Regions from separate parts of the Homo sapiens genome. Here all the other regions are linked to region 2. The links come from fine-mapping of genetic effects on gene expression. A gene starts in region 2. Each other region holds a variant in brackets. All regions are shown on one strand. Distances are from middle to middle.

Region 1 (10,282 bases), 170 kb before region 2:
TTAGTTCATCTGAGAGCTGGTTGTTTAAAGAGCCTGGCACCTCCTCCCCTCTCTTGCTCACTCTCTCTCACCATGTGATACAATGGCTCCCCCTTTGCTGTCAGCCATGATTATAAGCTTCCTGAGGCCACACCAGAAGCAGATGCTGGCACTACACTTCTTATAGTCTGCAGAGCTGTGAAGCAAATAAACCTTTTTTCTTTATAGATCACCCTGTCTCAGATATTCCCTTGTAACAACACAAAACGAACAGATACAGACTGTCCTTTAACTCGAAGTTATTTTATTCTACTTTATAGTGAAATATACACATATACACATACATATATACACATGTATATACATATGTGTATATATATACACATGTATATACATATGTGTATATATATACACGTATATATACATATGTGTGTGTATACACACGTATATATACATATGTGTGTGTATACACACGTATATATACATATGTGTATATACACACGTATATATACATGTGTGTATATACACACACATGTACATATACATATGTGTGTATATACATGTATATATACATATGTGTGTATATACACATATATACACACGTATATGCATATATGCATATATACACATATACACATATATACATATATACACATATATACATATATGTGTGTATATGTATATACATGTGTGTATATATACAATATGTGTATATATACAATATGTGTATATACACACGTATATGTGTGTATATATACACACACGTATATGTGTATATACACACAAGTATATGTGTATATATACACACACGTATGTGTGTGTATATATACACACACGTATATGTGTGTGTATATACACATACACATGTATATGTGTGTATATATACATATATATATATTTGAGACAGAGTCTTGCTCTGTCATGTAGGCTGGAGTGAAGGGGCACCATCTTGGCTCACTGCAATTTCCACCTCCTGGGCTCAAGTGATTCTCCTGCCTCAGCCTCCTGAGTAGCTAGGACTACAGGTGTGTGCCACCACACCCAGCTACTTTTTTGTATTTTTAGTGGAGATGGGGTTTCACCATGTTGGCCAGGCTGGTCTTGAACTCCTGACCTACTCACAATATATATTTTTACACATAAAATTTTCATAATTGTTACTGTGCTTGTCAGTTTGAGGCATCCTTACTTGGCAAGACAAAAAGTTTAAAATAGGATGAAAACAAAAAATATGCAGTACATTCTCTGTTAATGACCAGATCTTTTCCCCTTCCCATTTCTCAGCAAGTGGACAAAACAGAAAAGATTCTAAAAAATCATTTTTCCTCTATCTGAAACATTTCAAGGAATTAGCAAAGAGTTAAAATCAGAAATGTTTATCTCCAAATACAGGAGAAAGGCATTACTTATACTTGCATACAAATTATTAATTAAAAGTTGATATTGACTCTGGAGGTAAAATAAACTCTGACTTACTATACAAGAAGGACCATTAATGTTGTATAAAATATTTATCTGTGAGGAGTGCAAAGACCAGAAGCATTAAAAATAAAGCCAAATACAACAAGAATTTTGAATACTGCATACAGACTGAACTATCAGACAAGGGAGATACAGCAGAAATCAACCAGGAAAACAAAAAACTACTGAGGCAAGCTATGATTTTTAATAGATTATTGACTTTATGCATAAAAGAAACTAATTAAAGAGTTATGTACTTTTCTAATTAAGACAATTTGACTAAGAAACTTGACTTTCCCAAAATTCTGAGTCCCAAGTTTATAAAGTGTATGCATCCCATCAATGGGCCAATCAAACTACATCTAAATTAGAAGCAAAACAATTACAAAATTTTGGTTGATGAGTTTGGAAATCACCGATGGCTCTAATTTTTAAAACATAGCACAGAGAAAAATCATACATTACAGGAACTTTAAACACTTGGATTCTGAGATTCAAATTCAAGCTCTAACATTTACTAACTAAAGGAATTTGGGTAATTGCTCGAAAGCATATATTCTCAAATATCTAGTGGAAAATATAGCAAGATCCTTGTAAGATAGGTAAGTGGATTAAATAACATAATCATAGGCACCCATTAAAAAGCTATAATTTTAAATATTTTCTAAGTATAATACAGGTTGAGTATCCCTAACCAAAATCCTTTGGAACACAAGTGCTTTGGGAATTTGAACCTTTTTTCAGATATACCAGTTGAGCATCTCAAATCCAAAACTTCAAAATCCAAAATATGCCAAGGAACATTTCCTTTGAATGTCATGTTAGTGCTCAAAAAGTTTCAGATTTAGGAGAATTTTGGATTTTGGATTTTTGGATCTGGGATGTTCAACCTGTTGTGATGCTCACTGTGGAAAATGCATGTCTGAAAATTTTTAAATGCATAATCTCAATAAGAAAAAAACATTAACTTTCTGATGTCTATTTGTCGGGATGGACATAGACACAAAATTTTAAAAGTTTGTTTATGGCGACTTTTATAGTTCAATAGATTTTCAAAATATGTAGCTTAATATATGAGTATATCTTTTATGCATTTTCTGTTTAATCATTTTTTCCGAAGGGACTTAATCACTCTAAAATTACAAACCTTCACTTAAATTGTTATCTTATTCTTTCATTATTATCTTCGTCCATTTGTCCTGCTGTAACAAAATACATGAGAATGGGTAATTTATAAAAAACAGAAACTTATTTCTCACATTTCTGAAGGCGGGGAAGTTCAAGATCAAGAAGCCAGCTGGTTCAGTGTCTCCTGAGGACCCATTCCTTATAGAAGGCACTGTCAAGGTGTCCTCACATAGTGCAAGGTAGAAGGAAAATTGGCCTAAGCTAGCTCCCTTTAGCCATTTTACAAGGCACTAATCCATTCATGAAGGGAGAGGTACTCTTGACTTAATCACTTCCCAACAGGCCTCACCTCGTAATACTACCAAAATGAGGATTAAGCTACAATACGAATTTTGGAAAGGATGCCATCATTCAAATTATAGCAATTATTTTGTTACATTTAAAACTCTACTTCTTCTAGATTCTTGAACATGCATTCTCATTGGGGGTTATACCACCTCCAATGGGGCAAAATTGTTGAGGCTAGGGAGAACAAAAATGTTATATATTAAAATTGTTAACGACGCTCCAAAGGGCCATAGTACAGAAACTGATGTAGAGTATATCTGTATTTTTAAAATTACAGAGAGAGAGGATGAATTAGGAGAAACATATATATTTTATATGACTTGTTGCAGCCAATGACAAAAACAATATTTAGAAACACTGACCTAGAACTTATCTTGGGTATGATATTTTAAAAATCCACTTTTTCATAAATGTTTAGATAGGTGGCCCAATATCATTTATTGAACAAAATATCTTTCCTCACTAATTTCAAGTGACACTTTCATATCCTAAAATTTTATATCTCCTTGGTCTGTTGTTCAATTTCTTTCTATCTTGCCTCAGCTTTCAACTGTACTAATTTTTAATACAGTTTACAGTGTGTATTTTACATGTTATAACACTTCATGGACACATCTTACATTAAAAAAGAGATAACAGCCAGGAGCAGTAGCTCATGCCTCTGATCCCGACACTTTGAGAGGCTGAGGCAGGTGGATCACCTGAAGTCAAGAGTTTAAGACCAGCCTGGCCAGCATGGTAAAACCCTGTTTCTACTACAAATACAATAAAATTAGTTGGGTGTGATGGCAGACACCTGTAATCCCAGCTACTCAGGAGGCTGAGGTAGAAGAATTGTTACAACCCTGGGGGTGGAGGTTGCAGTGAGCTCAGATTGCACCACTGCACTCCAGCGACAGAGAGAGACTCCTTCTGAAAAAAAAAAAAAAGAAAGAAAGAAAAAGAAATAACATATGGTACATGATTTGCTATGGAAAGCCTATTTTAAGATAAGTACTGGTGGCCTTCCAATTTATATTGATCATTAACAAACCTAGACAATTTTAAAGACAAAATATTTGAAAAATTCTAAGGACCCGTCTTCATACAAGAAAAAAACACTAAACTTTCATGCCTTTTTTTTTTTCAATAAAAGCTCTACTTTTTCCCTAGCAATGTGATGTACAACTCAGGAATTTGTAGATATAAATCTTCCTACAGACCCAGCTGCACACTAAGGATCATATCCTAGAAACCCTTATAAAGATTG[C/T]CTCCTATATTAAAAGCAACTGCTGATCTACTGAAGCATTTTATAAGTTTGTTCAGTTCTCAAACTTTAATGAGCCTAGGAATACCTTAGGGAAGTTAGCTAAAATATAGATTCAGATTCAGTAGTTCTGGATGAGGGCAAAGATTCTGCATTTCTAATAAATTCCCATGTCATGACAATGCTGCCAGTCATAGATCACACTTTGAGAAGCAAGGCATTAATAGGCATCTGCATTAGTCCATTCTCACAGTGCTATAAACATACTATCTGAGGCTGGGTAATTTATAAACAAAGGAGGTTTATAAAGTAAACTACTTCCACATGGCTAGTGGGACCTCAGGAAATGTACAATCATGGCAGAAGAGGAAGCAGGCACCTTCTTCACAAGGTGGCAGGAGAGTGTGTTAGCATGTGAAGGAAAAGCTGTCAAACACTTATAAAACCATCAGATCTCGTGAGAACTCACTCACTGTCACAAGAACAGCATGGGAGAAACTGCCCCCATTATCCTATCAGCTCACTCCCTCCACAAGTGGGGATTACAGGTCTGTTCCGCCACATGCGGGGATTACAATTTAAGATGAGATTTGGGTGGGGACACAGAGCCAAATCATATCAGCACCTATAACCGAACAAAAGAAAATTAAGTAACTAAGACTAAGGCTTTCTAAAGTGGAGTTGGGAGATTGGGAGAGGACTGCAGTTACCCCTGCTGAAGGTCAAACCACAGAATGTTCCAACAGACTTCGACAAACAACTAAAGTCTGTATCCTCCAGCCTTCAATATCCCTCAGCTGGCAGTATCCTAATTAACTAACCAATCAGAATGGGTTTGTGATTTCAGATTTCTGCCCAGCCAAATAACTGCTTCTGAAAACAACTTGTGTGGAAATCTCTATTAAAAAACCTCTCCTGAGCTTGGCATACAGAACACTATTCAGGGCTGCCCTGATTCAGTGTACCTGAGTTGCAATTATTTATTTCCCAGAAATGCTATAACCTTTGACCTCTGTGTTAATCCCCCTTTTTTTAGTTAAAAACACCATTTTCAATTAGCAACATGGAGGACCTAGAAATACACTAAGTGTAGAGAACATCTAAACAAAAGATAAGAATATCTGCTTTTAAAACACATCATACTACACCTGCATACTCATACGCACAGGCACACATACACAAATACACATGCAGCTTCCTTCATATATACCACGTTGAACCACTCCTAAAAATAAAGAAATCTCCAGGTTCCTTTAAATGACTTTAATTCTGATATTTGAACTATTCAGTCTGTAGAAATGGAGTCACATGCTTATGGGACAAGGCTGGCCCTGAGAAAGATCCAAATACAGGACAAGATCTGAAATAAAAGCATGATGATGGGAGCCAATGGAAACAGGCAAAATAGAGACAGTCCCAAATTCTGTACTCTAATGCATTTGCCTTTTCTTTCCCAGTCACTGCTAAATGCTTTCAAGTTTTATTTTGCTTTCTCAAAAAAAAAAAAAAAGAATTGGAAGAAAAATAATTAATTTTGTAATATAATCTTTCAAATGGTTTATTTTGATGAATATTTACTCAACATTTTGGTTGACTAATCAGTTTTCAAAATTAAAAACCTCTTAAATCCCTTTTGAAAAGTATTAAAATATAATTTCATATAGATATGATGTGCTTTTCCTTTTACTAAAGTGAAGTTTGAGAAAAATATTTTATTCAGCCACCTCAAATATTAGTCTGCTATGTTTCTCAAAAATTTATGTAAGGATTACCTATATCAGAAATACCTGTGGTGCTTGCTGAATACTCACATACTAGCCATTCAACTACTCAATCAGATATCTGGGAAATAGTTCAGAAATTTTTTTGTTTTTGTTTTTGAGACAGAGTCTTGCTCTGTTGCCAGGCTGGAGTGCAGTGTCATGATTTCAGCTCACTGCAACCTCTGCCTCCTGGGTTCAAGTGATTCCCCTGCTCAGCCTCTTAAGTAGCTGGTACTACTGGCGTGCACCACCACGCCCGGCTAATTTTTTGTATTTTAGTAGAAACAGGGTTTCACCATCTTGGCCAGAATGGTCTCGATCTCTTGACCTCGTGATCTGCCCACTTCAGCCTCCCAAAGTGCTGGGATTACAGACATAAGCCACCGCGCCCGGCCAGAAATTTGCATTTTTGATAAATGATTCAACTCATTCTCATTTAAGTAAATATTTTAGACATAGTTTCCTAAGAAACTCAGAACTGACTTTAATACATTTTGAGGCTGTAGTAGATTGGTGACCCCCACGCACAAAGATATGTCCACTTGAAGCCTACACATGTGACCGTGTGTGGGAAAAAGGTCTTTGCACATGTAATTACATTGAGGATCTTGAGACGAGATGATGCTGGATTACTGTGTGGGCCCTAAATCCAGTAACAAGTGTCCTTATAATTAAAAGAAAAGACAAACACAAAGGAAACGGCAATTTGAAGACAGCAGCACAAATTGAAATCATGGGTCTACAAGATAAGGAACACCAAAAAGTGCCACCAGCCACGAAGAGCTTGAAGAGAAACATGGAATAGAGTCATCCTCAGAGCCTCCAGAAGTAACCAACCCCACAGACACCTGGATTTCAGACTTCTGCCTCCAGAATCATGAAAGAATAAATTTCTGTTGTTTTAAGCCAACTTATTTGTGTATATTTGTTATGGCAGTTCTAGGAAATGAATAAAGTCTTTCAAAATATATAGATAATGCTCATTAATAATATAACTAATAGTCGGTTACATTTGTTCAGCATTAGTGTGCCAGGCGCAACGCCTAGGACAAACAACCATGGCTGTAAGTACATGTCTGGTTAATTTTAACATTAATAGTCTCTTCCACTTCAATATTTCCTGGATCTTGCCTAGGATTCCCTGCCAATAACAGCCTCTTCCCCAAACTGCTCCCTTACTTATTTACTGCCTTTTGTTCTGGGCCAATAAGTTAAGCAAATATTATCCGATGTCTGCCTAACAACTGTACATCGCTTAAGCAGTATAAATTCCAAACTTTCTCTAACAACTGTGCATTGCTTAAGCAGTATAAACTCCAAATTTTTTCTAACAACTGTACATTGTTGAAGCAGTATAAACTCTAATTTTTCACTGAAATATAAATATTTGGCCAGGCACAGTGGCTCATGTCTGCAATCCCAACACTTTGGGAGGCAGAGGTGGGCAGATAACCGGAGATCAGGAGTTCAAGACCAGCCTGGCCAACATGGTGAAATCCCATCTCTACTAAAAATACAAAACTTAGCCAGGCGTGGTGGTGCATGCCTATAATCCCAGCTACTTGGGAGGCTGAGGCAGGAGAATTGCTTGAACCCAGGAGGTAGAAGTTGCAATGAGCCAAGATCACGCCACTACACTCCAGCCTGGGTGACAGAGCGAGACTCTGTCCCACCGACCCCCCCCCAAAAAAAAGCCACAGAAATATAAATATTTAAAAATCATATAACTAACCATGACCTAGAAAAGTCAGCCATTAGTTTATGACCTTGAATTATTTTATTTAATTTATAAAATATGAATATTTGAATTTTGTTTGTGTTACTATACAGTATAATTTGAAGGCGACATATTGAAAAGACTTGTAAATCACTTAAAGACTAAACAAAAATCGATAATATGCCTGATAATTTTTAGACTGCAAAAGCCCATATTTGATACCTGGAAAAAAATTCAAATATATCATTTATCTCCATTTACACCCATATCTCAGGGATACCTATAAGCAAATTTGCTATTCCATTAAGATGACAGAGATTAGAAAACAGTCTGCAGGCGATTTATTCTGCCACATGCTGTTCTGAGTTACATGCTCATGAGATTGCTTTGCAAATACATTAAAATTCACTCATTTCTGCCAATTATTTTCTTGGATTGCTAAATCGTTATCTACATTATTCATATCTGTCTGTATCCCAAGGATGCTACTTGAAATGGCAGAAAGTATAAAGCCCCAAAACAATACAGTACCAAACTTTTATACAGAATTAAAGAGACGAGGCTGTTTGTACCCAGATCTTGCCAAGTTGTCCCAAGGGCTGAATTGATTAAGATGGTAGCTGACTTGTTACCTCTTTATGACATACCAGTGGGACATGATCCACCAGTTAAGGAGTTATGGTATAGATCATATTTGGCATTGTATTAATATATTGTCACTTAAAGAGAAAATCTTCTCCTAAAAGAAGAAATCACCACGAAGATGATGGTAAGGGGGCAGGTGGCCAAATTCATTCAAAGATAAAAAGCACCAAAAGGACACATGTTTCGTGTTAGCAAGGCATTGGGTGCTGTCACTGAAATGGTTTTTGAATCCAACATGTGGAACTTTGTCCAGATTCCTAGATAGGGTGCCAAGAATAAGACAGCTTTGTTGAAGCCCAAAAGAGGAGTTGGTTGGGTCAAGAGTGGGACACCAAGGCGAAACACTCACTTCCAACTCTAGTTACAGAGGCACTAGGCAGGAGTCATGATGAGAGAATCCAGCTGGAACACTAGTAAGACCCTCCTCCCCGGTCCTCCGGGAGGAGGCTGGCAGCAACATTGAGGAAGGAAATGGTCAGAGAGAAGAGGGTCCTCCGAGAGGAGGCTGGCAGCAACATTGAGGAAGGAATTGGTCAGAGTGAAGGGAAAAGCCTGAGGAGGGAAGGGAGGCAAAGAACTTCGCTGGTATTATCAACAGAAATAAGGATTACACAGCTTAGTCCCACCCTGATTTCACATGTAGATATCAAAGAGCATGTGTATGTACATTCTTCATTATGGCAATTTCCCATAATTATTTGTGTCATGACTAAAGAAATGAATAGCAATTAAGTCGTTCTATTTATAACATAGTATACTGCTTAAACTTCTGTGAAGTTGCTAATAGTTTCATTTAATTAAATATGCAATCTTGATTATAACTATCAACCCTGAAAGATGTCTAAGATATGAAATGTATGTCAGCATCAAAAATGTTTCTGGAAATCTAAAACCGTTTTCATTTTCTGGCTTGTGCAAGTGTCTGATTCAGAATTTTTTTTAATTGCTACTACACGGAACAGCAAATCATAATTCCCGATATTATTTTTTCTTATATGTTTGAACATTAATTAGCAGGCGGTCCATATCTGTGCAGGTGCATATGTTTGTGTATGTGAATCTGTATAACCAGGACCTAATAGGCTGATTTAGAATTTTCTAAATATAGTCTCCATGAATAAATTATATATAATAATGTGCCAATTTTTGTAATTTTAAACTTGTTACTTGCGATTTTTAGCACAGAGTAAAATTTAAAACAAGAGATTTAACAGAACTTGACAATAGAATTTATTGTTAGCTATTATTGTTTTGTGCCAATAGTAATAAACCTAAGCATAATTCAGGATAGTAAATGATAGTTTAAAAATAAAAAAGATAATATGTAAAATTACTTTAAATGGCAAAACTCATTTTTTCTCTACGATGCACAATTATACATATTTCTAACAAAAATTTTTAATATGGATCCTTCATTTTAAAATTAAAGATGGTTTAGAGACAAGTTTGTTTCCAGAACAGAGCTCTCAAATACTTGGTCCTATTCACAGAAGTCTTGTAAGAAAGTTTCTGGGTTATTTTTAAGAACAAACTGCTTACTTTTTCAGTAATCTTATTTCCTTAAGAACTAGCAAGATACATAAGAAATAATGGTCCTTGGCCAGGCGTGGTGGCTCATGCCTGTAATCCCAGCACTTTGGAGGCCACAGCAGGTGGATCCATCTCTACTAAAAATACCAAAAAAAAAAAAAAAAAAATAGCCAGGCATCATGGCGCATGCCTGTAATCCCAGCTACTCAGGAGACTGAGGCAGGAAATCACTTAAACCTGGGACGCAGAGATTGCGGTGAGCCTCACTGCTCTCCAACCTGGGCGACAGAGTGAGACTCTGTCTCAAAAAAAGAAAGAAAAAATTAAAAGAAAGAATGGTTTAATCATAGAACATATGCTAGCTAGACAATACATTCAGTGTATGATTTCTTTTCCTAAATATTTGGAGAACTCCCCCATGTACTTATGAAGGTGACTGCACACACATCGTTGAATGAATTTTCA
Region 2 (10,282 bases):
TACTAAAACTGAAAAGTTCAAGAATTGAGAGCACAATCAGTGCTGCCTTTTCTTCTAGTTGAAGGTCAGGACTTTATAAAAGAAAGGTAGATATGGAAAATGGCTATTATCTATTAAAATTAATTGCTATTGTTACTTAACCAAGTAGATCAGATACCACATTCACAGAGAATATATTTCAACAGACATATGTTTCAAGTCTCTCATGACTCCATTTTAACAAATCAGATCTGTTGTTTGTCGGTTGAACAGTTATACCAAGAGACCATTCATCTATAAATTATGTCTGTTTAGTTGAGGCACCTAGCTAGAATGTTGTTCTTGGTCTTACCAGGTAACTATAAAAGAAATGTGGTAGATTTAGAAAGTGTTCTTATCAAATATAAGGACAATGTGAAAGTGGATTATACACACACACATACATGTACACACCAAAAATACCCATCTTCCGGAAAGCCTTAACAGGCTGGAAACAAGGAAAAATAATAGGGATTGGGGGGTGATAAGTGGAAAATATTATTCTTAAATTCCTCAAGTTGTACCCCTCCTAAGCCAATTTTACAACTATAGGATGTTGGACACTCGGCAAAATGGAACTTAAATTATGGGATGGAGAGAGAATGGGGACATATATAATATTTGTAGTTGATGCACTAGATTTATAGTTGACAGCAATAGTTATAATTAACCCCATGAGGGAATATGTGTGATCAGTATAGTTCAGCACCTGATGAGCCATTGGATTCTATGACCCTAAAGTAGAAAATCAAACTCACTTCTCCACCATTAAGATGCACTAAAGGCCTAGAGAAAAATGAAACACGTGATTCTCTTAGACATCAAAGCACAGACTGGACTTCCCAAGGGAAAAGGTGACAAACTGTCCTGGAAGTGGAACTGGGCCTTGATGCTCACAATTCAAGATAAATAACATGCACAGAATTAGAAAACAATGATGAGGCAAGACCACTTGGGACCTGTGGTATAAAAGGATGAGGACAAAGGCACTCTGCAACCACAAAAATAACTAAACATTCCCCTCTTTTAACCAGCACTAGCTACTACTGCTTCTTTATTTATGACAACTACCCCACCTTAATCTTTCTAACACCTAGATAAAAGTTACCAAAATAGCCAATTCCTGAATTGCCCCACTTCATTAAACCTTCCTTATAATAATAGCCCACCACAAGCCCAAATCCTATAAAAAGCCCTCCCAACTACCTACTACCAAACTCTCCAGAGTCCCTTTGGTGTGCAATCTCCCTTGCTGCAACAAACAAAATGAATCTAATTTTACTACAATCTTGTTTCCAGTGGTTCCTGGCTGGTGGGCTTCGACCCAGGGCAATCCTGATGTTAATCATCTGCCCCAATGTCAGACGACGGGTCCCAATTCTGGCTTTGGAAATTTGATCCCCACAAACACGTTGTTCAAACAGCAAAATTGGTTTCATGAGAAATAGAGTCGCAATTTCAGATTACTGTCCATGAGTGACTATGGCCACCAACATTCTAATTGTGTGAATCTGTAAACCACCTTAGAAGCACTATTTTACCTCCCTACAGACAGAAGAACGGTGGTGTGGCAGTGGAGACAGTGGTTATGGGCATTGCAGCTAGCAGCAGCGCAGCCTTGTTTCATAGAGGTTTATTAGTTCACAAAAATAAACAAAATATTCACCATAATGTAACGGATATCACTTTAGATAAAAATACATTTCCCAAATTTAAAAATAATCATTTCTGACTTGAAACCAACTCATTATTGTAAAAACATCTTTGATATATAAAGATCTAAAATTAAAATGTCATCCTTAAAAATCAAGTTAAAATCAAGACAGTAAACAAAAAAATTATAATGACAACAAGAACATATTTTCAGCACTTACTATGTGCCTGGATTTGTGACATTTTACATTATTTCATTTTATCTATGCAAACACTTTTTAAGAATATTCCTATTTCTAAATGAGAAAACAGAGGTTCAAGATGATAATTTGTCTATGAAGCAGAACTACAAGTGGTAGAACCAAGTTTTGAAAGCCAAATGTCTATCCAGTAAATCCAAACTCCAAGGTTACCAAGCAGATCATTTTTCTTAGGTGTGAGAATGAAACTACACTGTCCTTGGAGCAATAATAAGATTTGATTATAATGAAAGCAGTTTAAAAAACAACAACAACTTCAGAGCACTGCTTACAGTGTCTTTTAGTATTAAAATTTCACTTAGCCATGTCAAGAGTTTATTTTTATTACTCTATTTATAGCCAAAATCTACCAAGGAAAAGTTACTTTCACAGACTACTTGATATCGAGAGTATACTTGCTATAGATTTCTATATCAACAAACATGCATATTTCAAAAAATAGTTGGTATATAAATTATCTAAATGTATTATTTTTTATGAACTTCCCCTTTCTGAACTACCCTCTAAAAGAGGAACTACTGCATGTGTGAACAATGCACAATGCATGTGCAAAGAGAATTTTAATAGAAAAGCATTATCCCCATCCCCAATAAATAAAATAAAAATGAAAAGACCTTTAAAAGACACTTTCAGTAACAGTTCTTTTCTGAATAAAATAAACAAGAGCAAAGGGCACCTTGACTACTACTTAGAAAATAAAATCGGAACACAGGGAAATCTCTAATTCTAATCACATTTACACCTTCTCTCCTTTTTTACATTTCTCATCCAAACATCCTTAGGAGCTCAATAGGCTTAAAAGAATTGGAGCAGGGTAGAGAACAAAGGTGAGGGGAATCTGAGAAACAGTTTAAATCACTGCTCTCACAATTTTAATAATTTCAATTTGGATAACATTTTTATCAGAAAAAGTAAAAGTCACAAAGGTAGGAAGAAACTAAAAACTTATTCTACCTGCTTATATTATACAAACTGTGTTTTGGCTAGACATCTCAGGGATTAACCACTGTGAACAAGAAATGCAAGAAAGCAGTAAAAATACGTACTTCCAAAAACAAAATCAAATTAAATGTGTTTGTTTTAGTCAGTGAAAGGGTATGTGCTAAATGAATAGATTTGTTAAAAGATATTACTATTTGTATTCTCATGGAGAAATGACTAAATTATGTTCTCTCTTGAGATTGAGGATAATCTTAGAAAATATGATAGTCAATTACCATATTCAATCATGTTAAATGTTGTAGATCATATATAAATACAAAAAGAAAGAAAATTATTTATTAAGCATGTGGTATGTTTGGTTTACTCAATTTGGGATTGAGGGGTTTTTTTTTTTAGAGAGATGAGAGGAATCAGTGTTTAAAAAAGTTTAATATTTTGCTGAATTATTTGTAAAAGAATGACCAACAATACAGACACAAAACTTCAGAATTATATCAAATTCCTATATGAATGCCTTTTTTGGGGGGTGGATCTAAATCAGCATAGCACTTTTGTGTGACTTTTTCTTAGTGAAAATATTAAAGGAACTTAGCATTTCTTTTCACCAGTACCACTGATGTCTCTAAGCCTCTTCTGTGAGTGCTCCCGTGATTCCTCCATCACCTTCAGCCACAGATTTAAAAAATCTACTAGCAATGGGGAAACAATCCAGAGTGACTTAGAAAAGAAAGATTCCTTGTCGTCATGGAACTTTTTTGTGTGTCATGTGTATCAAATGCAAATAATTACAGTCATTTCCCTCTCCTTAGGACAGAGCTTTAGTTTTCCCTGACATCCTGGTAAGACACTGTCTCAGTGACTGATACTCTGGAAAGTTCATCTTTAAAAGAGATGAACACCCAATCAATGTGTTGCATTCAGCAGATACCAGAAATACTGAGATACCAGAGTGGAGTGAAATCAGGGCCTTACTGGGGAGAAGGGGCTGGCCATCAACATTCGGTGAACATAGCAGGCAAAGTTACCATATTTGGGGACTAAAAATCTAATAATTCAGGTAAAGATCTCACATCATAACACCCTCACCACCCACACGCACAAACTCACTTTAGTTTTATCAGCAGCCAATAAAGTGAGATTTATTTCCTAATGAAAAGAATGCACTAAGAAAAATACAGATCTATAAGGCGATATTTTATTTGGGGATAGAAGAATCGCCCTAAACTGAGAATGTCAACTTTGTTTCAAGTAATACAGAAAAAGCACCTAGTACCAAACAGGTATACAAAGAAATAGCTGGGTTTAAGACTGGTCATGTAAACTCAAATGGAGTCAGTGTTCCCGAATGCCTAGATTTTCTTTCTGGGATGACTTAAAATTGAGCAAAGCAATCAAGAAAAGCGGCTACAGCTCACACTTCCTCATTGCTACAAGCAAGTCCCCCAACCCTGGAAACTCGGGACTTTAGACTTAAGCGTCCTCCACAAGTTCTTTGTTCAACCAGTAACCTCACAGATTCGTCTGTGTTGGCTTCATAGTCACAGCTAAAGGGGTGCATGGCTCTAGTGAGATCTTACTTAGCTCTAGACACCTGCTATTGCGTTTGACAGCTATGACCTATTCTTCCAGACAGAACCTACACTGGAACTCCCACCAGCAGAAGGAAATTGGTGCGGTGGAAACGGGGAGCAGGGTTCGAAAGCACAGGCAAAAGGCGCTCACAGGAAGCAAGATCCACGCTGGCCACACAAACTGTATCTTTCCCTTTGGAACGCTGGTACATCTCATCCATGTCAAGTGACTCCCCAGTACGTTCGGTTTGATCGCCTGTTGCCCTAACACTTTTCAGGCTAAAAACTACCTTGGTGCTGGGAGACACACTGGGTGGTTGGGTTTCCTCCAAGCAGGGCTTGATACGAGGGCACAGAAGGGCAGCTAAGGGTCACGTCTCTGGGTGCACAGGGTCCAAGTCCTAATTACAGAGGAGACCGGCTGCCCTTGTCTGTGCCCCATTCTCCAGCAAAGGGGTATATCGCAGGTTTGTGATTTTTAGTACCAAACTTGGGGCGATCAATTCAATTCCCTCCACCTTATGAGAAAGCAGTAAACCGAAATCCCCGGTGGGGCACTGGGGAAATTCCTACTCGGAAGAGAAACGGAGTTAGACTGCGTGTCCCCCACGCCCTGATGTCTGCTTTCCTGGTTCCTTCCAACTCATCCTCCAAGACGAAGGGAGCCGGGCGGGAAGCAGATGCCCAGAACGGGGATTCGTCGCAGGCTTGGTTAGGGGTCCCCAGAGCTGCGCTGCGCTGCACTCAGGCTACCCGCACCAAGCATCCCCGGAAGCCTCCCCGGGATTCACCCTGCGCGGCTGCAGGGCCCGAAAGGTCATCTTCCCACGAGTGCCACCAAGGGAGCCTGGGGGAGCGAAGGCCGGGCTCGGACGCCGCCAGTCCAGAGACCCCCTCATTGCCCCTTACCTGCCCGCGGCGAATCCGGCAGCCCCCTGACAGCTCCCAGCAGCCGCCACTGGAAAAGTTTCCGAACTTCTTCGCAGGTCTGCACGCCCTCGCTGCGGGCGGACCCAACCAGGGCCAGAAGGAGGAGGCAGCGAAAGCCCACGGGCCAGGTCTGTGCGTCCATCCTCGCCGTCCTGGTCCCCTTTACCCGCCAGTGGACCCCACTCGCCCTGCGCGCCCTGGCTGAGCTGCAGACGTGGAAGACACAGCGGCCGAGGCTCTCGAGCGGTGCGAGCCGGCTGCGGGGTGTACGGACCGCCCGCGGGCACCGGCTTCACCTGGGAGCAGTTAGCTCTTCCCGGAGGAGGCCCTAAGCTGAGACACCAGAGTTTTCCAGCTGAGCACCCTCTGGTCTTCTTCCCTAGCCGAGAAGAGTGGGCGGCTGGGCGGGGCGAAGAAAACTAGTGGAGCCGCAGGGAGCCCGCAAGCATCCGCTCTGGCCACCACTGCTGCAACTGCTGCCGCTGCCGCCACTGCCGCCACTGCCGCCACTGCCGCCGCCGCCGCCGCCTCCGCCGCCCGGCTCGGCTCGCAGCAGCTAACCTGGGATGTGCCCGCTCGCTGCGCTCCGCGGAAGCCCCGCCCCGCACTCCCCGCCCCGCGGACAGGCCACGCCCCTGCCACGCCCCCGGCGCGCTGTCCCGCTCCGCACCCACTAAGATGCTGTCATACGCGGCCCAGTGCTGAAGACTCGGAGCGACATCGATGCAAATAAATAGAAGGAAACCCGGACCTCGCTCTCCCAGTCCGTTCTGGGGAAGAATCATCTGATAAAAACAGAGAATGTATAAATAGGGTCAGAGAAGACAAGAGATGAGAAACACCAACTGGAACTAAGAAATATCTCATCTATGTAATCAAGGTCCTCAGTACATAGGAATTTGTATTCTAATTGCATTAAATAGGATCTGGACATAATACAAAAGGCAAAAACTATTTACGGTTAAAGATCTCAATTGAGAGACTTCATAACACTTAGGTTGTTAAAGAGTGCACATGAGAAGTTATTTTTTAAAATGGCTTTGTTTTACTGCTTAGGAACATTTTTCTATAACATGATTTTCTGAAAGGAGGTATAAGAATTACAATCAAACTTTATCACATTCTTATCACAATGAAATCTAGTTTTAAGTCTCTTATCACCATTTAGCATCATATTTTACTTCAGCACTTTGTATTTGTGGGGCTCCTCTGAGCTTTACCACTTCTGGAATTTCTTTAAAATATTTTTCAGAGAGCAATTAAGTTAAGAGTGCTCAGGGGAGTTCCTTACAAGGAATATAGAAAAATAAATACTTTAAGCAATTTTAAAATGGCAAAGGAATTTTGTCAATTTACAGTTTATGAGAGGAATGCATTACGCACCATAAACCAAAGGGCAGGTGCATTTTTTAAATGTGGTTGACTCAACAACTAAGCCTGTAAGAGTGTCTCAATCTACAGCCACTTGAAGAGAGTACTCCTTCTGTAAAATAAACTAGTTAAAAGCATCAGGCAGAGGGGACAATGAATGCTTTAACCACTTTAAGGAATTTCATCTCAAATTTGAACCCTTACCAAGAGATAGTAGTGAAAAACTTTATGTCTTAGTGAAGATTTTTAATGAACATTTAATATCAAAGGCAGCACTTTCAGCAGTATATCACTTGCTTTAAAACCATTCCAGGGCAATGGCTGAAACACTGCTTCAGAGTGAAATCATGCTACTTGGTGTTTGGCATCAGTTTTCTGAATATGAGATTTTGTTTCAAAGGGCAGTGCTCTTCATGAATCTCTTCTGCTCTAACCACCAAGTATGGAAAGATTGTCTGGAAGCCACCTATATCTATGAAAAGAAACAAGAAAAACCATGAGAATGTATATAGTGCTTATGGGCCAGATAATATTCTAAGTATTTTATGGAAATGAATTCACTCATGTAATCTTTATAACAACCTTATAAAGTAGTTACTACTATTATCATTGTTTTACAGATGAGGAAACAGGAACACAGAGGTGAAGTGACTTACTGAATGCCTAAGGTAAGTGACAAAGCCAGAAATCAAACTGAGGCTTCCAAATCCAGACCGCATGCTCTTCTCCAGAGGCTCTCCTTGACTATTCTGTGGTACAGAAAAACCCATCAGGTTTCACCAAAGGCCTTTGGGCAGCAACACCAAGGGCTGTTTATTCATTTAGCAGATTTTTTACTAGTAAATATGCATAATTTCTATCTATATAACTGTATTCTACTGGAATTATGTGTATCTCTATATAAGGCTAATAAATTCCCAAGTTTTTCTAAAACATCTTTATTGTTACCAAGATCTCTCCTTGATAGATTTGATCATCTTAGACTCTTAGCATCAAAAAGATCCTTAAATTACCATCTATCCCATTAACTGGAATCTCTAAAACGGTGTGTCTTGCAAGGATAAAAATCATAAACACAACTGAGTATTGATGGTTCAGTAAAAGCTAATTGACTAATACATATTGGTTGAAAACATACAATTTTTTTAACCGCTATTCTAGGCTTAACAGGAGTTTAAAGAGACACACAAGCAAGTTTTCTCAGTGATTTTATAAGTTAACAAAACAGGTGGGAGGTCATTTATAGAAATGCCATAGGAACTAACAAGAATATATTTAGTCTGTATAAAATATCCCCATTAACAAAAAATAAATATATTTTCCTTCTACCTCTTATCCATAACTGCTAGCAAAGTGGATGAGCCAGCATGTGGCCTGGAAGGGCATCTTGTCCTATTAGCATCCCTAAGCCCACCACGCAAGGCAACAGTATGCCTGCTACTGAAGCTACCAAGCTTCAAGACAAGTTTTCTAGTTCCACCCAGAACACAATGCCACGATCCCTTTTATAAGAACATTCTAGAGCAACCTCTGCAAATTATACCATAACTAGCCTTTTATTCAATTTACTGGTAAACATTACAAATGAAGCTAGGGAAAACTGTCCATAATTTGATAGTTATAATGCCTTATTTTACAAAATGTATTTAAAAAATGTATTGAATGTCTTTTATATAATAGGCATTGCGCTTTGCTTTCAAAATACCAATACCCTTGGATAGGAGAATCCTTAAATGGTCATTATTTAAAATACAGCTTAGTAATATTCTAAATCCAAAACTTCCCTGATACTTTCTATGTAACTGTTTATATGTTTATAGTTTGTCAACTTAGGACCTTGTAAAGAGAAATAAAAAACCTCGGCCGGGTGCGGTGGTTCACGCCTGTAATCCCAGCACTTTGGGAGGCTGAGGCGGGTGGATCACGAGGTCAGGAGATCGAGAGCATCTGGCCAACATGGTGAAACTCCATCTCTACTAAAAATATGAAAATTAGGTGGGTGTGGTGGCCCATGCCTGTAATCCCAGCTACTCAAGAGGCTGAGGCAGGAGAATCGCTTGAACCCAGGAGGCAGAGATTGCAGTGAGCCCAGATCGTGCCACAGGACTCCAGCCTGGGGGACAGAGTGAGACTCCATCTCACAAAAAAAAAGAAAGAAAGAAAACCTCCAGTGTGGTTTAGGTGATTTAATGATATCACAGAGTCTTCAACCCTGACTATTCTTTTAGGCTAAGACTGGCCACTAATTAGTTTACCCTCAGAAGCTGATTTGGGTAACTTTTATACCCAGTCAATGACAAGAGCTAAGATTTATTAAGCACTTACAGATATTATCTCATTTAACATTTCAACCATTCCATGAGACAGTTACTATTATACTACTGAGAAAACTGAAGTACAAAGAGATTAAATAACCTTCCAGAAATCCTGATAAGAGCCCAAATGCAAGCCAGGCTTCATAACTTTTGTACCCCTTTAGTCACTACACTCGCCTGCCTGAAAAGCCAGACACCTGGTTTGTGGCCCCTTGAACTCAACCTATCATATAAATATAAACTCTGGTACTCACAGCTATCCATGTGGACAACCTGCTGAACACCTTGGTTATAGTGGTCCAGAGCTCTGCATTGGCTTCAACGATGGCCTGATAGTACCTCACTGACGTGGGGCTGGCCAAGGTACTACCTGCTCCTACTTCCTACCTCCACTAAGCTTTTAACTAGGAGAACTGTTTTGCAAGCACTAAAATCCCACGAACTGCCTTGACATCTTTGAGCCTCACAGGTCCCTAGTCATGAGTTCTCCTGCTCTGGCCAGATATGCCCCCCACCCAGATGGAAAGTCTTGCTTGCTGGCTACCTCCCTTAGCTGGACCAGCTCCATCCCACCCTGTCTTCAACCTAATGGCTTTCACCTCCCTTCAGAGCAATTAGTCCAACAAGATAATCACATCCTCCTGTGGGAACCAAGGGGTCCTCCCCACAACACACCATCTTCTTGTTACTACAAAGCTTGCCTCCCACAACTCCTGCAGGTTCACTCTGCTCCCAAATGAAGCCCCTCCTCCCCTGTATGGCCCTGCATGGCATGTGGTAGCCTCCTCCCCTGGGCTATGAGTATGTGTGACTAACAAACTGCTGTAAATCTCATCTGTCCAGTCTTGTGTGTTTGATCATCTCGTATAATTTACAAAGGGGGATCCCTCTTTCATCAACTGGGTGAAAAGGAGGTTGTCAGAGAAAGAATATCCTTAATACAAATAACTTCCACTTCATTATTTCCAAAAAAGTGCTGACTTTTGTCTTGCCCTACCTTCTCTCTCCCTCCGATGTAGGCTCTAAGCCGTTGGTTGCACAATAAAGAGAACCAAGTTGGATGTCAGCCCGAGCTGCCCCAGTAATGAATTTCTGCCACCAAGTAACCAGGAGAAAATTGAGTGATACTCCCCTGAAATCTCCTCTAGTGAAGATAGTAATGGTTCTGTTAAAAAAAAAAAAAATCACCACCGGGCACAGTAGCTCTCGCCCGTAATCTCAG
Region 3 (10,282 bases), 50 kb before region 2:
TTGAGAAATTGAATATCTTATTTTAAAAAGCAGGTGAATCTAGAATGAGAATATAAATATAATTTATGTATTTTCTTCCTTTATGCTAACAGATACTAGCTACTGTTAGGGAAGAAGAAAGGAGGGAAGGAGAGAGAGAATCTCTTGTTTTATTTCACAAGTCTTCTTGCTAAGTATCATTCATTTATTCATGCAGTTCATTTAATTATATTTGCTGAGTATCTGCTCTGAGTTTCAAAAATTAAAAACAAATAGCAAAATGATAAATATCTGATTAAATGTCAATTCATCTAGCCAATAGATGTACAGTTCTTACATTGAAAAGATTTAACTGAAAGTGTATTTAATATAAAATCAAGAACTGTTTCACCAGCTATAAGCAAATTACTGTGCTTGCAAGATGAGATTACCATAGCCATAGGTGATATTATCATAACTATCATCTGTCAGAATTAAAACAACTAAAAGTTTACTTCTTAGAGTTTAAAAAAGAAACTTGGAAAAGTAAACCTGATCTTAGATCTATAGTTAATATTTTTCTACTATTGATATTATTTCATATGAAGCAAGCTTTATTTCCAGCTGAAAAGTAATTTAAGCTCTTGCAACTTTTATCTAGAACAGGAAAATTGCTTGGTTTCTCATAATTAATATAAGCCTGTTGACGCCGATTCAAAAGAAACAATTTTTAACATTGCAGAGATAAAGGACAGTTGAATAAAGACCAATTGCACTGATAGCTGCTGTATTAGATAACACACTAAACCATGCACTGCCTAAAACTGAACAAGGAAAAGAATGCAATCCCATTCAGCATGCCACTGACATAAACACTATCATGTGCCCCTTTATAGTTTAGAAATTAATAAACTAATAAATATGTCGGCATATTAGGAGTCTGAATGATCCAGTAAAAGTATAATGGATTTAACATTTTGACACTGTGTACAATCTAAGTACCTAATGATGCTGGCACCCAGTAGGTGCTCAAAAGATATATTAAATGCATCAACAGAGGAATAAAAGAAAGGAAGAAGGAGGAGGGAGGGAGGAGAGAGGAAATGAATCTCTCATTTTATTTCTGAACCATTTTCTTGCTAAGTACCATTCATTCATTCATTCCTTTATTCATATAGTTAATTTACTTACATTTGCTGTATATCTGCTCTCAGTGCTACACATAGAAATAAGTCTCCCCAACACTACCAGCCTAGGCTGCCTGTTCTCTTAATCTTGATCAAGTAATTCTTAATGTTAAAAATAGCAATACGCCTTTATTCTTCCTAGGAAAAATTTTAAATATAGTCCATTTCTGTAAAGTATAGCTGAAGTGACTTAAATAAGATTAATGTGCTCTATGCTTGATATTGTAACATTTATATAAATCTATTTGTCTTCATATTCATTAATATATTTGAATATTAACTATATCCTGTGTCTTTTGCTATATATATACATATATACTTTAGTTTTACAGTAGCAGCTATACGATAGCTATACACTTTACAGTAACCAGTATCTGTTAGCATAAAGGATAAAAATCCGTAAGTTATATTCATATTCTCAATTCACCTGCTTTTTAAATATATTTAATTTCAAGCATATTCCTACATTTCATTAAAAATAGCAATCATTTTTTAATAAATTCCTGAATCTAACATTTCAACCCCAGAGGACAGGCTTGCCAATCTTTCAAAAACATATAATCAAGGAATCAAAATATAATTAGCCAAGAGATGAAATCAAAAAAAAGTTAAATAATTTTTGTTCTAAATGTCACTTAGACTCTAGCAATAACATTTTTTTAGAATAATGCATTTCCAGTTATATATATAACTGGAAATTTTCCAGAATAAAGACTTAGTATCCACCATATATTTTAGAAATATATGAGCATAATGAAGTTGAAAGAAATAAGAAAAGGTTCATTTCTAAGGAAAGATATAACATTTTAACCTTATCTTCCAAATATTAACACAAAACACAAGCTTCCAATAGTGTCCTCTAAAATATTATTTTTTATTTTTTGAAAGTCATGTTGAAATTTTTGCATAGTTACAAATTAAAAAACTAAATTTCATTATTTTATTTAAACAGAGATTTAAAAATTGAAAAATATATAAGCTGGATAAGAGTTGTTTTTTACAGAAGATGACTCTCCATCAATTTCCCCTATTTCTCCATGCATCACACCATACTGTCATGTATAAAGAAACAAAATATTTATAACAAATATTTCCAAAATATTTTTAAAGCAGAAAATCTTATAGCAAAACCACCAATGGGAAACAAACTCTTGTATTATCCTGGGCTGTTCTGCTTTATTCATGAACATTACTAAGCCCCTGAAAATGAAGAACAGTTATTGTTTGCACTGTGACAAAGCCAACATTCCTCCTTGCAAACAGCACTACTTATTTATGAACAGCAACTGACATAAGGGTAGCAGTTTTCTTTTTCTGCCCTATAAAATACTTCATGGATGATTGCCCTTAGAATATAGTGAAGTCCCAGGTCATAATCATGAGTCCTTCTAAAAACAGATTTTTGGCCAGGCATGGTGGCTTATGCCTATAATCCCAGCACTTCGGAAGACCAAAGTAGGTGGATGAGTTGAGCTCAGGAGTTCAAGACCAGATGGGGCAACAGGGCAAAACCCTATCTCTATAAAATATCAAAAATTAGCCAGGCAAGGTGTCATGAGCCTGTAGTCCTAGCTACTCGGGAGGCTGTAGTAGGAGAAACACTTTAGCCTGGCAAGTTGAGGCTGCAGTGAGCCATGTGATCACACCATTGCACTTTGGACTGGGCAACAGAGTGAGACCCTGTCTCATAAATTAAAAATAATAGAAAAAATGAAAATAAATAATAAATAAAAGCAGATTTTTGTCTGTTTTGTTCATTTTAAGAAAATGTGGGCTGGGCATGGTGGCTCACACCTGTAATACCAGCACTTTGGGAGGGCGAGGTGGGTAGATCATGAGGTCAGAAGTTCAAGACCAGCCTGGTCAACATGTTGAAACCCCGTCTCTACTAAAAATACAAAAATTAGCTGGGCATGGTGGCACACATCTGTAATCCCAGCTGCTCGGGAGGCTGAGGCAAGAGAATCACTTCAACCTGGGAGGCAGAGGTTGCAGTGAGCAAAGATCATGCCACCGCACTCTAGCCTGGGTGACAGAACAAGACTCCACCTCGGGGAAAAAAAAAAACAAACAAACAGAAGAGTTGTCCTAGAGGCTAATTCTAGCCTAAATGGAATATACATAGGCAGTGGACTACAGAGCCCAGTGTGAGTTTCACATAGGATAATCTTAGGTCTCTTCTAACAACAGCTGTCAGCATGGCTTCCTCTCTCCCTCATGCATTTTTAACCTCCCAGCCTTCATCTAACAATAGTGTGCCCTCTGCTAAATCCCCAGACCCAAGTGATCATCCTCACTGGCTGTATTCAAAAGTTTGCTCTAAAAAATATGTTTCCGTGGGGTCACATAAGGTCCATGAGGAAAGAGACCATACTACATCCCAGTCCAATGTCTTTTATAACCTACAATATAACTCGGAAAACAGATTAATATTGTTGAACTAGGAAATATAAATGAACTATTTGAAAACTAAAAAATCAAAATGTAGCACATCTACTTAACATCATTTGAGAAGTTAATTGATTTCTCTATCAAATTTCTCTCAAGTAGACGTTTCCCAAAAAAAATGTGTTGGCTGCTTCCTTCTTATAAAGACTTTATATTGTTTTCAGATATTTTAATTGCACAGAAATTAGATGGAGGGCATTTTACTTAATGATAAGGTAGCCTGCTCACTTATGGTACAGCAAAGTGATCTCTTGTACTGCTTTTGGCATATATATTTAAGCTTGTTTTTAAGGAAATAAGCCTAAAGCTACTTATTCAATTCAATAAAAGTGGGTATTCTTATAAGTGAATTTGGTTCCAGAAAAGTTAGCCTTTAGGCAAATTTCTTTTAAATTTGTCTTCCCTTGAGCTTCTTAAATAAAACTTGACATCTACTAAGGAAGAAATTATAATTTATTATTAAAAAATCATATTTAAGAATGTCTCTATATTTTTTATAATTAATTTTTAAATAGCAAAACTCAACCTAATGAATAAAGCAGATAAAATTTAGTAAACAGAAAACAAAGGTTTACATAAAATTAGCTGACACTTCAATAGAGACGATCTCCTTAACATATATTTCTACTACTGAGATGGTTATCACTAAACTTTTAGCAGTATCACCAAAACTTTTCACCAGCCTCAATCCATCTTAAAAGTCTAAATATTCCAGGTTTCCTAACCCTTTGAACGTAATGTGCTCTATCTTGATCACATATCCAAGATTCAATATGAATCCAGTCCACCTTTTTAAGCATATGACCACCTATCACAAACTCCATTCTGCTCAGACTGATATATCCACTGCGTGGCCTCCAAAATGTATATTTCATATTGTACCTACTATCCTTTTCATTGGAAGAAAATATAATTTTCTGTAGATGGTTAACGGCTTCTAACTCAGCTAAATCACAAATCTTGGTTTAAAATGTATATCAGTAAATTTTCCTCCAACAATTTCACATGAATAAATCCTACAATAGAAATAAAGTTGTTTTGTAAGGCATCTAAAAAAGCAGCTAAATTTATAAAACCTTAAAATCTGACATTTCACGCTTTCTACAAAAAAGCATTAATTCATCATGAACTACACTTTAACTTAAATTTTATTCTGATTTATTGCATTTATTTTATTTAATAACTATCATTTTAAAAATTAAAGAGCTCTGTGATTTACTTATATATGTACACCAAGCAAATTATTCAAATAGATTGACATTAATGTACTTATTTAAAAGGAATACTAACAGAAGTTATATTCTGCATTGACCAAAGGTAATAATTTGAAAAGCTGTATAATCTAGATATTTTCATTCTAGTCATATACAGAATAGCTAATGCTTTATAAGAAGAAAAATAAATTAAGCTATTTTATTGTAGTAATAAGGAATTTTACAGAAGAGATGACTAAAATAAGAAAAACATCATGTATTTTTCAGTGTGCCTTGTAATTTTATAACCTATTAATTTTATATCTGAACATATTGCTTGAATTAAGGTTGAGTTCTGGTCTTAAATGACCCTTAAACATCCAATTAACATTTCCTGTTTTACTATTTATCAGACTTGCTTGCACTTTGATATATTCCACT[G/A]GTGTTCTTATGAAAACCATATGAGATTAGAGCAAGGAAATTTAAAGAGTATTTCTTCAAATAACAGGGGCCTGTTGCGGGGTCGGGACGCAAGGGGAGGGAGAGCATTAGGACAAATACCTAATGCATGCAGGGCTCAAAACCTAGATGACGGGCTGATGGGTGCAGCAAACCACCATGGCACATGTATACCTATGTAACAAACCTGCATGTTCTGCACATGTATCTCAGAATTTAAAGTAAAATTTTATATAAAATAAAATTATGAGACATCCAAAAAAAATTTTTAGTAGATAAATCTATAATTACCCAGTAAAAAGCAATGAGATTTTATGTTATAGAACTTTTCCATGAAATCTAATAATTATGTCTGTTCATATTAAAGTACAGCTATGAGTCAGAATGTTGGCAGACCTGGAAGAACCCTATAGCAGTATATATTTCCAACGATCATTTCACTAACATAACAGTCCAACTCAGTTTCCCCAATCCAACTCAGTATATACTCCCACAATGACCTCAGAAACAAGTTTTGAAGGCTAGAAAAAGTTAAAACCTCATTTTATACCCGAATATTATGTAAATACAAGGAAATAAACCCAGCCAAGTTTGCCAACGTAACTATCTTAGGCAAATTACATAACACGGCCAGTCCTTAGTTGCAGAATTCAAGATCCACTTACCTTGAAAAGCAGCCGCATTTCGAGATATTAGAAACTTTAATGTAGAGCTGGACGTTTGAAGAAACTGCTGCATATCCTGGCGAGCCGCAATCTGATATCTCTCCTCCATCTTCCTGGTGCAACATGTAGGCTTTTTGGATATGCAAACCTGAAGATCAGGTCCTGGAACACACAACATTTTTCAGAATGATTACCTGTTCATTTAACAAGTATTACATATTATATATCAGGCGTTATGACCAGTCCTGCACACAAAGGACTATGTGAGGAATGGATTTGCTAGAGTACTTGCTATAAGAAAGTTTATCTATTGCTCATTAACACAATCATAAACAAAATATTCTAAACCATTAACTCTTTGCTCAAATATTATATTAACTTCTTGGTCAAATATTAAGTATCTCCACTCAATAGAAAGCAAATTAACTACTATGAAGTACAGCGCTCAATCAAGAAAAAGGTTTTTTGTGGGTTTTTTGCTTATTTTATCAATTCAGCCAAAATTGCTTGAAAGAAATATGTTATAGATAATTATGTGGACTAAAAGAATTGCTTTTCATGGGGAAATGAAACTGAATTTTGAACATCACATAAAGGTCAAAAAACTTGACCTGATTTCTCAGCTGCCATCAGGCTCGTGCTGCTTGTGAAGTAGGCTATCTCTGCAATAATGACATGCTGGGAGATCAAGGCCCCCATGGGCCCAAGCTCAGCATCCAAGATTCCACTCACTATATAGCTGGCGAGAGACAATCCCCTCCTTTAAAAGCACTTTTTAGTTGTACAATCATGTTTAGAAGGATCCTGTGAAGATGTATATTGCATGAAATGTAAAGTTATTAATATATGAAATGTAAGAGTTATGGTTACAAAAAAACCTTTGCTAGTATCACTAAACTTTCATCCTGGTAGGGACCCAGGACAAGCACCTTTATGCACAGCAGATATGCTAGAGGACAGAGAGGAAAGATGTGGAGCACAAAGAGTTAGTGCCCAAAGAGGAAACCCTGATGGAGAGAGCTGATGTGAGCCCCAGGGCATTCCAAGGCTACTAGATTATAAGTAAAGCTCAGGACAATTTTATTTACATAATGGCCTAATACGGTTATTTCCTTACTTTAGAATAACAAGAAGAATTGTGGCCCTTAATCTCTGTGAGTTTCACAGGTTCCACATTAGTTCTTCATCAACTAATTTTAGATCAGTAAAATAGGTGCATGCACACAGACATACACACAAGACGCATGCACATAACAACCACCTTTCAAGCCCTTCCTACTTTTTCCACACAGAGTTGGCCTCAGGTCTCAAATTTCCAAAAGTTGGTTCTGGGTCAGCTGAAAATATATGAAACCACTCTGAGCTTCCTATCAACATGGGACACCAAAATCTCTAACGATTTTGGCTGTAGTTTAAGTCAGACAAATAACAAATGACAGAATTTTGACACTTTACAAAGGCTAAGAAGCATAAAATATTCGTAAGTGTCACAGTAGGTAACATTTTGGCAATCGTTTTTCACTTATCTTACCTAAAGTTACGTAAGAGCAAATTCTACTTCAAACAGTAAAATTATTTGAAAAAAAAAAAAAAGCTATCTTCTCAGCTTTATTCCTAAATTGAAGGATTGAGGAATTAGCATCCAGAGAAAAGCAATAATAGAGATTGAGGAAAAGAACTAACGAATAAATATTAAAGTATATAAACATATTTAGTGTAGGAAAGACTGCTGAGGAATAAAAAGAACAATAACAGCAGATCATAGCAAATATCTCTTTGGAATTTAAATATATAACACTGTTGTGTTAGACCAATTCCTAAACATGGCCTGTGAAGGCCTCCAAGTTGTGATCCTTCCTTTCCTCCCTCCCTCTCCAGTCTCATCTCCGGAAACATTGGCCTTTGTACTCTTCCCATCACACTCTGGCCTTATTTCAGCTCTCTGTGTTCACCAAGCTCTCTCTTGTCACAGAACCATTTTCCATGGTCTCTTCTCTGTCTCAGACACACTTACCCTACCTGTTCTCATGCGCGCATGCAGCAAACCCTCAAAGATTGACTTATCTCTCCTTGGCACATTTCCATCAGTATCGCCTATAAGATAAGCTTAAATAATTTAGAGTTGGGTCACAGTGAAAAGGGAAAAGAGTTGACAGGAAATGTGTTCCCTAAGTTACTATATCAATCCAAAAGACAGACAAGATGAACAAAATCCTCAGGGAAAGAGCTATCTCTTACATTTTGTTCACAGTATCAGCACAAAGGGCATAATAAGATGTTTGGGTGATATAAAGCCCAGGCTCCTATTGTAAATAGAACAGGCATCATAAGAAAACAAAGCTAGAGTGAACCCAGATACTATTATGCATGGTAACTAGAGGTATCTGAAGATTTCAATGCCTGGCTTCGAGGAACATGGCATGATCCTAGAATTCTATGAGACAGCAAGAGTACACAACCCAGGCTCTGGAGTGACAGTCATGTTTCTAAACAGTAAAATCAAACTCCAAAAGAAACAGAGTACTAAAACAAAACCAAAAATAAAACAGTAATGTGCCTCAATGAAGGAGACTTCAACCAGAATTGTGGGGATGTTTCTGAATTCTCACCCAGAAGCAGCAGTAGTGGTTAATACGTCTTCCTTTCCATTCTCTAGCATAAGAAATTTACAGATATCTACATGCCTGTATATTTTCAATATGTTAAATAGGAACATCAGGAGGTATTCTGGAAATATGGTGGCAGTGGCAGCATAGTTTTCACTATCTCCAAATCTCCACATAAAACCAGATGGAACTAGAAAACAAACCCCCAAAAAACAAAAACAAAATTAGATGACATGATATCCCCACAAACTTTAAAATACAAACAGAATGGGGAGAAACCAGGAATAGGCACAAGATCTTCACAGTAACAGAGCAGGGCACAGGGTAGAAGAAAGATGCAACAGAGGAATGTCTGAAGGATCTGAGATCAGGAGAACCCCAAAATAGTGAGCAGGAGTGACAGGAAAGCACAGCGACCCACTTGAGAATACAGTAGCTCCCCATTTAACCATGGTTCCACTTTCTATGCTTCCAGTTCCCCACAGTCACAGTCTGAAAATATTAAATGGGAAATTCCAGAACCAAAAATCTTATAAGATTTTGCTTGGGCATGGTGGCTCATGCCTGTAATCCCAGCACTTTGGGAGGCCAAGGTGAGCAGATCACTTGAGGTCAGGAGTTCGAGACCAGCCTGGCCAACATGGCAAAACCCCATCTCTACTAAAACTACAAAAATTAGCTGGGCATGGTGGCATGTACCCATAATCCCAGCTACTCAGGAGACTGAGGCAGGAGAATCACTTGTAGCTGGGAGATGAAGGTTGCTGTGAGCCGAGATCGTGCCACTGCCCTCGAGTCTGGGGGACAGAGCAAGATTCTGTCTCAAAACAAACAAACAAATAAACAAACTGATAAGGCTTAAATTGCTTGCTGTTCTGAGTAGCACAATGAAATCTCATGCCTTCCTGATTCATCCCACCTGGGGTGTCGATCACCCCTTTGTCCAGGAGATCTCCGCTGTCTATGCGTCCCACCAGTTAGCCACTTTCTAGCCCTCCTGGTAGTCAAGAGGACACTGTCCTGGTATGGCAGTGTATGTGTTCAAGTAACCTTTATTTTACTTCAAAATGGCTCCAAAGCACAAGAGTAATAATACTAGCAATCTGGATTTGCCCAAAGTGCTTCGCTTAAGTGAAAAGGTGAAAGTCAGTTAAGAAAAGAAAAAATAACGATATGCTGAGTTTACTAAGATCTACATAAGAATGAATCTTCTATCCATGAAACCGTGAAGAAGGGAAAAATAATTTGTGCTAGTTTTGCCATCGCAACTCAAACTGAAAAGTTATAGCCACAGCACGTAAGTCCTTAGTTAAGATGGAAAAGGCATTCAATTTGTGGGTGGAAGACATGAACAGAAACATGTTCTGACTGACAGCAGTTGGGTTTGGTTCTATCTGATGCTTCGGGGATCTACTGTGGGTCTTGAAACATATCCCCTACAAGTAAAGCGGGGCTCCTACAGCAGCTGAAACTGGGAGAATTTTGCCCCCTCAATCATTAAATGTGTTCTATCGACCCATGATAGAAAAGAAGGAACAAGAGCAGTCCCCACCCCAGTAAACAATCAAACAGGTTCAGCAGGGCTCCTTTCCAGGACAGAACCACACACAGAAGAGAAATGCTGTAAGTGAAATCAAAATTCAACAGAACAGGGATTCAAGACACATAGAGAAAGTCTAGCCCAAAGTGCAAAGGAAAATAAATCCAGAAAATAACATAAAATGAGCTGCCATATTTTTAAACACTACACAAAATTAACAGAAGAG

Which allele goes with the higher level. Alleles are on the strand shown, and positions count from the first base shown. SD is a standard deviation of normalised expression in the study named. Not every link is listed here.
In carriers of allele C in region 1, the expression in tibial nerve of the gene that starts at base 5,942 in region 2 tends to be higher than with T alone (moderate effect, 0.45 SD a copy in GTEx).

What was found. PIP is the estimated chance that this variant, and not a neighbour inherited with it, causes the effect. A credible set is the group of variants that fine-mapping cannot tell apart.
Region 1: its variant is the best candidate, but not a certain one, in a credible set for the expression of GPC5 in tibial nerve (GTEx, PIP 0.73).
Region 3: its variant is the best candidate, but not a certain one, in a credible set for the expression of GPC5 in lung (GTEx, PIP 0.65).

What each region holds. Positions count from the first base shown.
Region 1 is chr13:91,562,322-91,572,603 of GRCh38, reverse strand. All of the region lies in intron 2 of GPC5 (glypican 5), which reads right to left. Among named protein-coding and RNA genes, the nearest start is that of GPC5, 170 kb to the right of the region's middle. The variant C/T (reference allele first, on the strand shown) is at 4,166.
Region 2 is chr13:91,394,281-91,404,562 of GRCh38, reverse strand. GPC5 (glypican 5) reads right to left here and starts at 5,942. Exons shown (of 8, transcript NM_004466.6): 1 at 5,354-5,942. The coding sequence starts at 5,516. It overlaps LOC124903189 (a long non-coding RNA gene), which reads right to left and starts at 7,686. Exons shown (of 2, transcript XR_007063831.1): 1 at 7,402-7,686; 2 at 6,975-7,217. RefSeq lists silencers at 5,858-6,127, 5,834-6,128.
Region 3 is chr13:91,444,551-91,454,832 of GRCh38, reverse strand. GPC5 (glypican 5) reads right to left here. Exons shown (of 8, transcript NM_004466.6): 2 at 5,911-6,072. Among named protein-coding and RNA genes, the nearest start is that of GPC5, 51 kb to the right of the region's middle. The variant G/A (reference allele first, on the strand shown) is at 5,228.